Regions from separate parts of the Homo sapiens genome. Here region 2 is linked to region 1. Evidence: fine-mapped expression QTL. A gene starts in region 1. The other region holds a variant in brackets. All regions are shown on one strand. Distances are from middle to middle.

Region 1 (5,370 bases):
CATCTCAAGGCCACCAGTCCCCAGTTATCACCCTTGGAAATCCTCTGTTTAGCTTAGTTGCACAAAAGGTAGTATGTCCAGTGGCTAGAGGTGGGGTGGGAAGAGAGGAGGCCAGGCCAGGCCCTCAGGAATTCCCTGGTTTCCACTGGGCCACCCACTTGCTGGACAGTCTGAGCCAAGTCCCTCCTGCTGGAGAAAAGCCTGGAACTGCCAAAACAAAAAAACAAATACAAACAAACCTCGTCACCACGGTCAGGAGGAGGTTCAGACATTCTGCCCAGAGGGGCTGGGGAAAGGGATGGGAGCCAGGAAAGATTTAGGGGCAGGAGACAGACACGTAACAGGAACTCGGAAGGTAGAACTTAGAATTCAGAACTTGGGTTTCAATTGTAGAATTTGGAATCTGGAATACAGAATTGGGAAGAAGAACAGAGATGACAAAAGACCACTTGAAGAGAGGTTCCTAATACTAGACAGATGGAGAGTGGCTTGGCTGTTTCCCCCTGCATATTGGGGTTGAAAACTTAAATGTGTAGTTCCAGTCCTTCTATGCAGAGTCTCTCCTGCCCTCCCTCCTTCCTGCAGGCAAATATACAAGCTAGACCCTGTTCCCTCACCCTGTATCCTGTCTCCCCTAATTGACATTCTATCAGCCCAACCCTCATTCTGCAGGGCCACCTGGTGTGTGGAGGTGGCGGGAGGGGTCAGTGACTCTGGGGGTCTCCTCAGTGACCCCCATACCTCATCATGAACCCTTGGGTAGCTTGATTCTGCCTACCATCCAGGAAAACTTGTGCTGGAATTGCTGATGGAAACAATTAAATATTTACTATAAATCAGTGTCTTTTCTTCATCTGCAAGGAACTTTAGCAGGTGCCTGAGGCAGGGCACAGTAGAGCTGGTGGGCTTAGTCCCACATGGCAGATCTACCCTCCTGGAGGGTACTGTGTTCTTGAGCTATTCTCAACAGTCAGTACTGGTTGGGTGCAGTGGCTCACGCCTGTAATCCCAGCATTTTGGAAGTCCGAGGTGGGCAGATCACTTGAGTGAGGTCAGGAGTTCAAGACCAGCCTGGGCAACATGGTGAAACCCTGTCTCTACTAAAAATACAAAAATTAGCTGGGCATGGTGGTGCATGCCTGTAATCCCAGCTACTTAGGAGGCTGAGGCAGGAGAATCCTTTAAACCCTGGAGTCGGAGTTTGCAGTGAGCGGGGATTGCGCCACTGCACTTCAGCCTGGGTGAGAGAGCAAAACTCTGTCTCAAATAAAAATAAAAATAAAAAAGAGCCAGTATTTTCCTCCTTGCTCCTGGGAAGGAGAAGGAACTGGCCCCGTACAACCAGGGATTCAGGACACGTGTTACTAGCTCCAGATGAGGATTTACACGAAAAAATCCTGGGCCTTGTTTGTACAGTTCATGCCAGGGGTAGGAAATACCTGAAGCTTTCAAATACTGCGTTAGAGTTGTGACTCTGTCCTGGGCAAGTCAGGCCTAAAATGGAGAAACTGGTGATGCACTCCTCAAAAAGCCAAGTGTAAAATGAGGTTAATGCCCTCCCTGACTTGTTGCCTTCACTGGCGTGGCATATTATGGTAAAAATAATAATTAAGAAGTAAGGTTATGCAGGCAAATCCTCTAGCGCCGAAATCTTCCCCGCCGCGCTACCAGGTTCTTTCGTGTTATCTTGGACATAACACAACATTAATTCAACTACTCGGTGGAGCGCCCACTAGCTGCTGGACACTCTCTTAGGCCCTGGGCACAGTGAACGAGAAGCATGTGTCTTTGTTTTTACAGTCTCACCACGCCACCACCTCCCTCGGGGGCCTCCGCGCTGAGCTTCCGGCCTCTACGCCTCGCTTCCGGTCGGCCGCCCCTTCCTTACTTCCGGTTCTCTATGGTGCGCGGGCAAGCTTTGCTCCGCCTCCGGCAGTGGCTTACTCCCGGTGCCAGGTTCTTGGAGCTGTGAGGTGAGGAGGGGACAAGGGCAGTGGGGCTGGGAGATGGGGCGGGGCTGGGCGCTCCGGGACTGAGGTGCTGATCGCCCAAAGGGCGCCCCTGGGCTGGGGTCTGACCCGGCTTCTCCTCCCTCACTACCCGCGGTCCCCGGCCTCTCGGCGCTGCGCTGTTACCTCATCCGAAAAGTGTTCGCTGCAGCATCCTCAGGCTTCACGTTGGAGCCTCTTGATTGTGGTAATGTAGCCTGATGGGGGTGGGGGTGGTGGTGATGGTAACAGCTCACATATATCGTGCTCTTCGGTGTGCCAGGCACTCTACTGTGTTGCCAAAGTCAGGATTTCCCACACTTAAGCCTTTCAGGTCCGGTCTTTGTAGGCTTTGCCAGATCAACTTACCACCTCTACTACCGTTTATTAAAAATTTGTTTGTTTGTTTGTTTTAGTATTTATTGATAATTCTTGGGTGTTTCTCGCAGAGGGGATTTGGCAGGGTCATAGGACAATAGTGGAGGGAAGGTCAGCAGATAAACAAGTGAACAAAGGTCTCTGGTTTTCCTAGGCAGAGGACCCTGCAGCCTTCCGCAGTGTTTGTGTCCCTGGGTACTTGAGATTAGGGAGTGGTGATGACTCTTAAGGAGCATGCTGCCTTCAAGCTTCTGTTTAACAAAGCACATCTTGCCCCGCCCTTAATCCATTTAACCCTGAGTGGACACAGCACATGTTTCAGAGAGCACGGGGTTGGGGGTAAGGCTATAGACCAACAGCATCCCAAGGCAGAAGAATTTCTCTCAGTACAGAACAAAATGGAGTCTCCCTTGTCCACCTCTCTCCACACAGACACAGCAACAATCCGATTTCTCTATCTTTTCCCCACATTTCCCCCCTCTCTACTAGACAAAACCGCCATCGTCATCATGGCCCGTTCTCAATGAGCTGTTGGGTACACCTCCCAGACGGGGTGGCGGCCAGGCAGAGGGGCTCCTCACCTCCCAGAAGGGGCGGCCGGGCAGAGGCGCCCCCCACCTCCCGGACGGGGTGGCGGCCAGGCGGAGGCGCCCCCCTACCCCCGACCCGACGGGGCGGCTGGCCGGGCTGGGGCTGGCCCCCACCTCCCCCCCGGACGGGGCGGCTGGCCGGGCGGGGGCTGCCCCCCACCTCCCGGACGGGGCGGCTGCTGGGTGGAGGGGCTCCTCACCTCTCAGACGGGGCAGCCGGGCAGAGACGCTCCTCACCTCCCAGACGGGGTCGCAGCCGGGCAGAGGTGCTCCTCACATCCCAGACGGGGCGGCGGGGCAGAGGTGCTCCCCACATCTGAGATGATGGGCGGCCGGGCAGAGACACTCCTCACTTCCTAGACGGGATGGGGTCCGGGAAGAGGTGCTCCTCACTTCCCAGACTGGGCAGCCGGGCAGAGGGGCTCCTCACATCCCAGATGATGGGCAGCCGGGCAGAGACGCTCCTCACTTCCCAGACGGGGTGGCGGCCGGGCAGAGGCTGCAATCTTGGCACTTTGGGAGGCCAAGGCAGGCGGCTGGGAGGTGGAGGTTGTAGCGAGCCGAGATCACGCCACTGCACTCCAGCCTGGGCACCATTGAGCACTGAGTGAACGAGACTCCGTCTGCAATCCTGGCACCTCGGGAGGCCGAGGCTGGCCGATCACTCGCGGTCAGGAGCTGGAGACCAGCCTGGCCAACACAGCGAAACCCCGTCTCCACCAAAAAATACGAAAACCAGTCAGGCGTGGCGGCGCGCGCCTGCAATTGCAGGCACTCGGCAGGCTGAGGCAGGAGAATCAGGCAGAGAGGTTCCAGTGAGCCGAGATGGCCGCAGTACAGTCCAGCTTCGGCTCGGCATCAGAGGGAGACCGTGGAGAGAGGGGGAGGGGGGAGGGGGAGGGGTTTACTAAAAATTTTTAATCCAGTCCAAATTTTTTTTTTGCAACGGGATCTCTGTTGTCAAGACTGAGTGCAGTGGCGCGATCATAGCTCACTGCAGCCTGGAACTTCTGGGCTCAAGCCATCCTCCCACCCTAGCCTCCAGAGTAGCTTGGGACCACAGGTGTGCACCGCCATACTAGGCTAATTTTAAAATGTTTTCTAAAGATGGGGTCTCGCTCTGTTGCCCACTCTGGTCTTGAACGCCTGGGCTCAAGCGATTCTCTCACCTCTGCTTGCCTTGGTTTCCCAAAGTGTTGGGATTACAGGTGTGAGCCATGGTGTTGGGCCCAGTCACTTTTTTTGTTGTTGTTGAGACTGAATCTCGCTCTGTTGCCCAGGCTGGAGTGAAGTGGCTGCGATCTCGGCTCATTGCAACCTCTGCTCCCTGGGTTCAAGTGATTCTCCTACCTCAGCCTCCTGAGTAGCTGAGATTACAGGCGCCCGCCTCCACTCCCGGCTAATTTTTGTATTTGTGGTACTGACGGGGTTTCACCATGTTGGCCAGGCTGGTCTCAAACTCCTGACCTCAGGTGATCCACCCGCCTCAGCCTCCCAAAGTGCTGGGATTACAGGCCTGAGCCACTGCGCCCAGCCAAGTCACTTTTTAAACTCAAATTTACTTTGAGAGAAAACTTGAAATCTCTCCACCAGAAATGGAAAGCTGCTTTCACTTGTTTTATGTAGAAGGTAAAAATTAATATAGTTAATATAATGCAACTAGATCATTGTTAACAAACTCTGGCTAGATTTTGTTGTTTAAGGCTGTGGGATAGAGTTCTTTTGTTACAAAGGAACATTGGCATTCATAGATGTTAAAGACAAACTAGGGAACTGAGATGTTCTCCTTGAAGCAATCAGAAGTTTCAAAATAAGAATTGAAAAGGGATTAACTTTCTCCTTAGGTGTTCAGCATTATTTAAGATCACCTATGCATCATCTGAAGCCACAGTCCCAGGTCATCTTCATCACCTTCCCCAGTGGAATGCCTCCTGTGTTAAAGCCCACAACAACCCCTGTGGTAGGGACTGTTATTCTCATTTGATTTGTGAGGAATCAGACCCAGAGAAAAGTGAAGTGACTCGTCCGGGGACTCATAGCCATGAAAGAGTAGAATGGAGATTCCAGTTCAGGGCTCTCTGACTTTTACCGTGACAAACTATTGGCTCCCTCAAGTCGGGGATGTGGAAGCTTCAGTGAGTGATGATTGTGCCACTGCACTCCAGCTTGGGTGACAGAGCAAGAGGGATTAGGGTAAAGGGGACAGTGCTGCCCACCTCAGGAGGCTGTGGTGAGGCAACAAGGGAGGATGCTTTGTGACTGTAGAGCCCCATGAAATGTAGGTTCTATACTTTAAATTCTAGGATCAACCTGGGAGTCAATGGCATCACTAGATGAGAGGCTGGCAGGACTAGGAGGCATAAAAGTGTAGTTAAGAGCACCAGTATGGCATTGATTGGATAGATCCGGATTTT
Region 2 (5,370 bases), 50 kb after region 1:
AGCCTGTGTGGGAGTCACCCATCCTGGCACCTGATTAGAAACACAGACACCCAAGTCCCATTCCAAATATTCTGACTCAATTGACCTGAGATGCACCAAGGAAGTGTATTTTTTTATTTTTATTTTTTGAGCCTTGCTCTGTCGCCCAGGCTAGAGTGCAAGGGCGCAATCTCAGCTCACTGCAACCTCTACCTCATCGGTTTAAGTGATTCTCCTGCCTTAGCCTCCCAAGAGCTGGGATTATAAGTGTGCGGCTAATTTTGTATTTTTAGTAGAGACAGGGTTTCACCATGTTGGCCAGGCTGGTCTCAAACTCCTGACCTCGGGTGATCCACCCACCTTGGCCTCCCAAAGTGCTGGGATTACAGGTGCGTGCCACCACGCCCAGCCAGGAAGTGTATTTTTAACAAGGATCCCTGGGTATAGGCTGCCCTGGTCTCTTTATGGAAGGCACTGTACTTTCTTCCCTTCCCTTCCCTTTCTTCATTTTTCTTGATGACTCTACAGGGCCAAATTCTCTGGGCAGCTGTCTTTCTTCTGTCTTCTGCACTTGGGTAGCAGCATGAGCATCTGGGTGCTTTTTTTTTTTTTTTTTTTTTTTTTTTGAGACGGAGTCTCGCTCTGTTGCCCAGGCTGGAGTGCAGTGGCATGATCTCGGCTCACTGCAACCTCAGCCTCCCGGGTTCACGCAATTCTCCTGCCTCAGCCTTCTGAGTAGCTGGGATTACAGGCGCCCACCACCATGCTAATTTTTTATATTTTTAGTAGAGATGGGGTTTCACCATGTTAACCAGGATGGTCTCGATCTCCTGACCTCGTGATCTGCCCGCTTCGGCCTCCCAAAGTGCTAGGATTACAGGCGTGAGCCACCGCGCCTGGCTAAGTATTTCTCTCCACATAGCGAGATCTCCTTGTCTTTTCCCTGACCTACTTGCCTGGGACTTTGTCCCAGGCGGCATCCCCCTGGTCTGTCCACCTTCAGGCCTTGTGTCTCACCGCCTGTGCTGAATAAGATTGAAATAGAGCCTAAAAATAGTTTAATGGCCCCTGCATTGCAGCCTGCACTTCTCTGTTCTTGGCTGGAAGGCAGCCAAACTGACTCAGCACAAAAGCTCATCTCCAGAAGCCGGGACAAGATTTCAAAGAGGGCTTGTGAGGGCTGGGAAGAGGCTTTGCTTCTTAGACAGGGGATATCAGAGCCTGTCACCCTCCAGAAGAGATTTTCCCTTTCCAGAGAAGCAGACTGAACAAAAGAATCCCTTGGCTTTAAGGAGGATTTTAAAACAAGCGAGAAGCCCAGGTCAATCCCTCCCCTGTGAGCTACTTAGCCATTCATGCCAAGGGTGGGCAGATTAGGGGGAAAGGGACTGGCTTGGGAGGACCTAGAAGCTTCCTCCTCAGCTGGAATTGTCCACGGACTTTTGGCAGATTATACTCTGGGGCATATCGCAGACCGCAGCCCATCTGTCGCTCTCTTGTACCTGGGACTCAGCCTGTGTTCCTTGCTTTTTTTTTTTTCCCCTTTACAATTTTTTTAAAACATTTTTTTTTCTTTTGTAGAGACAAGGTCTTGCTATGTTGCCCAGGCTAGTCTTGAACTCCTGGCCTCAAGCAATCTTCCCACCTCGGCCTCCCAAAGTGCTAGGATTACAGGCGTGAACCCACCATGTCAGGCCTGTTCCTTGCCTTTTTAAAGCTGCCGTCCACATTCCTGATTTATTGGTATCTTCTAGTTTCTCCCTTATTTTCTTCCTAGCTTATCCCTTACTATTTTCTCTGCAAATAACTCCACAGACTCTTTTCATAAACTTAAGGGTGTTCTTGCTGATCACTCCGCAAAGCTAAGCAAAACTCTATCCCTAGGAAGGAGCAGGGCTGCCAGACTTCCAAAGGAACTTTGTCCCTGTCGGTGTAGCCGACTCTGTCCTTTCTATGGCGTTCAGCAGTGTCTCTGATGAGAATAGGCATTAAGCATCTATTTTGGGTCAGGCCCTGTGCTAATCACACTTTTACATTCACTGTCCTATTTAAATGAAACTTAGTGTATAAGTCTTTTGCCTCCTTGGTTAAATTTATCCCTAGGTATTTTATTATTTTTGATACTATTATAAATAGAATTATTTTCTTAATTTCTTTTTCTGATTGTTCATTGTTGGTGAGTAGACATACAATTGTTCTTTGTGTGTTGACTTTGTCCCCTGCTGCTTTACTGAATTCATTTATTAACTCTAGTAATTAAAAAAAACTTTTCTGCCAGTCTGGGCAATATAGTGAAGCCCTGTCTATACAAAAATAAGATTTAAAAATTAGCCAGGCATGGTGGCGCATAATTGTAGTCCCAGCTACTCAGAAGGCAAAGGCAGGAGGATCACATGAGCCCAGAAGTTGGAAGCTACAGTGAGCTATGATCACACAGGTGCACTCCAGTCTTGGGGACAAAGTGAGACCTTGGTCTCTAAATAAATAAATAAATAAAAGGGTTTACTGTGGATTATTTGGGATTTTCTATATATGTGATAATGTCATCTGCAAATAGAGATCGTTCTATTTCTTCCTTTCCAATTTGGATGCCTTTTCTTTTTCTTGCCTAATTTCTCTGGCTAGGACTGCCAGTACTGTGTTGAATACAACTGTGAAAGTGGGCATCTCTGTCTTGTTCCTGATCTTAGGGGAAAAGCTTTCAGCTTTTCACCATTGGTTTTGTGTTTTTTGTTTTAGATACAGGGTTTTGCTCTGTCACCCAGGCTGGAGTGCAGTGGTGCAATCAAAGCTCACTGCAGCCTTCAACTCCAGGGCTCAAGCAATTCTCCCACCTCAGCCTCCCATGTACCTGGAAATACAGGTGTGAGCCATCGTGCCCAGCTCCCCTTCATTCTTTAAGGCAAGGTAGTGTACTACATTAATTGATTTTCTTTCCTTTTTTTTTTTTTGAGACGGATTCTCGCTCTTTCACCCAGGCTGGACTCAGTGGCGCTATCTCGGCTCACTGCACGCTCCGCCTCCCGGGTTCACTCCATTCTCCTGCCTCAGCCTCCCGAGTAGCTGGGACTACAGACGCCCGCTACCATGCCCGGCTAATTTTTTGTATTTTCAATAGAGACAGTTTCACCGTGTTAGCCAGGATGGTCTCGATCTCCTGACCTCATGATCCACCTGCCTCAGCCTCCCAAAGTGCTGGGATTACAGGCGTGAGCCACTGCGCCCAGCC[G/A]ATTTTCTTTTCTTTTCTTTTCTTTTTTTTTTTTTGAGACAGAGTCTCACTCTGTCGCCCAAGCTGGAGTGCAGTGGTGCAGTCTTGGCTCACTGCAACCTCTGCCTCCCAGGTTCAAGCGATTCTCCTGCTTCAGCCTCCCGAGTAACTGGGACTAGAAGTACTCGCCCCACCATGCCTGGCTAATTTTTGCTTGCTATTTATTTATTTATTTTATTTATTTATTTTTTTTGAGATGAAGTCTCCCACTGTCGCCAGGCTGGATTGTGCAGTGGCACAAACTCAGCTCACTGCAACCTCCGTCTCCCGGGTTCAAGCGATTCTCCTGCCTCAGCCCCCCGAGTAGCTGGGATTACAGGCGCGTGCCACCACACCCAGCTAATTTTTGTATTTTTAGTAGAGATGGGGTTTCCCCATGTTGGCCAGGATGGTCTTGACCTTGTGATCCGCCCACCTTGGCCTCCCAAAGTGCTGGGATTACAGGCATGAGCCACTGCGCCCAGACTGAATTTTTTTTTTTTTTTTTTGAGACAGTTTCACTCTTGTTGTCCAGGCTAGAGTGTAATGGAGTGACCTTGGCTCACTGCAACCTCCGCCTCCTAGGTTCAAGCGATTCTTCTGCCTCAGCCTCCCAAGTAGTTGGGATTACAGGCACGTGCCACCATGCCTGGCTAATTTTTGTATTTTTAGTAGAGACGGGGTTTCACCGTGTTGGCCAGGCTGGTCTTGATCTCCTGACCTTGTGATCCACCTGCCTTGGCCTCCCGAAGTTCTGGGATTACAAGTGTGAGCCACCCCACTTGGCCAGATTTTCTCATTTTTCTTGAGTCAGTTTCAGTAGTTTTTATATTTCTAGGAATTTATGCATTTAATCTAAATTATTGAATTAGTGGACATACGGTTGTTCACAGTATTGCCTTATAATTCCTTTTATTTCTGTAAGGTTGGCATTAATGCCTTCTCTTTTATTCTTGATTTTAGTAATTTGAGTCTTTTCTTCTTTTATCTTAGTCAGTCTAGCTAAAGGTTTGTGAATTTTGTTGGTCTTTTTAGGACCTTTTTTTTTTTTTTTTTTTGAGACAGAGTTTCACTCTTGTCATCCAGGCTGGAGTGCAATCTTGGCTCACTGCAACCTCCGCCTCCCGGGTTCAAACAATTCTCCTGCCTCAGCCTCCCAAGTAGCTGGGATTACAGGCGCTCGCCACCATGCCTGGCTAATTTTTGTATTTTTAGTAGAGATGGAGTTTCACCATGTTGGCCAGGCTGGTCTCGAACTCCTGACCTCAGGTGATCCGCCCTCCTCAGCCTCCCAAAGTGCTGGGATTATAGGTGTGAGCCACTGCGTCCGGCCAAGACCTAACTTTTAATTTCATTGATTTTCTGTGTCATTTTTATATTCTCTATTTCATTAATTTCCACTCTAATCCTTCTTTGGGTTTACTTTGCTCTTCTTTTTTCAATGTCTTAAGGTAGAAATTTAGGTTATTGATTTGAGATCATTCTTCTTTTCCTTTATTTATTTATTTAGAGACAGGGTCTTGCTCTGTCACCCAGGCTGGAGTGCAGTGGTGTGATTGTAGCTCACTGCAGTCTTGAACTCCTGGGCTCTGGCAACCCTCCTGCCTTGGCCTCCCAAGTAGCTGGGACTACAGGTACACGCCACTGTGCCTGGTTAATTTTTTAATTTTTATTTTGTAGTGACGGGATCTCACTATGTTCCCCAAGCTGGTCAGGAACTCCTGGGCTCAAGTGATCCTCCAGCCTTGGCCTCCCAAAGTGCTGGGATTACAGGCGTCAGCCACTGTGCCTGGCCTCATTCTTCTTTTTAAATGTAGACATTTACAACTTTAAATTTCCCTCTAAGCATTGTTTTACTTGCATACCGTAAGTTTTCATATGTTATATCTTCATTTTCGTTCATCTAAAAATATTCTGATTTCCCCTCTGATTTCATCTTTGACCCATTGGTTATTTAGGAGTGTTTGTTTTTCACATATTTGTGACTTTCCCAGATTAGTTATTAACTTTTACTCTAGTGTGATCAGAGAACGTACTTTGTACGATTTCAATTCTTTTAAATTTATGGAAGCTATTTTTTTTTAATTGAGGCTTTTTTTTTTAAAGATGGAGTCTTGCTCTGTTGCTCAGGCTGGAGTGCAGTG

Evidence for each region. PIP is the estimated chance that this variant, and not a neighbour inherited with it, causes the effect.
Region 2: its variant is the best candidate, but not a certain one, in a credible set for the expression of THOC5 in lung (TOPMed, PIP 0.86).

The regions. Positions count from the first base shown.
Region 1 is chr22:29,550,274-29,555,643 of GRCh38, reverse strand. It overlaps THOC5 (THO complex subunit 5), which reads left to right and starts at 1,887. Exons shown (of 20, transcript NM_003678.5): 1 at 1,887-1,973. It overlaps NIPSNAP1 (nipsnap homolog 1), which reads left to right. Exons shown (of 10, transcript NM_003634.4): 10 at 1-836. RefSeq lists enhancers at 1,517-1,586, 970-1,667, 3,065-3,764 and a silencer at 1,987-2,176.
Region 2 is chr22:29,499,895-29,505,264 of GRCh38, reverse strand. No RefSeq gene overlaps it. Among named protein-coding and RNA genes, the nearest start is that of NEFH, 22 kb to the right of the region's middle. The variant G/A (reference allele first, on the strand shown) is at 3,209.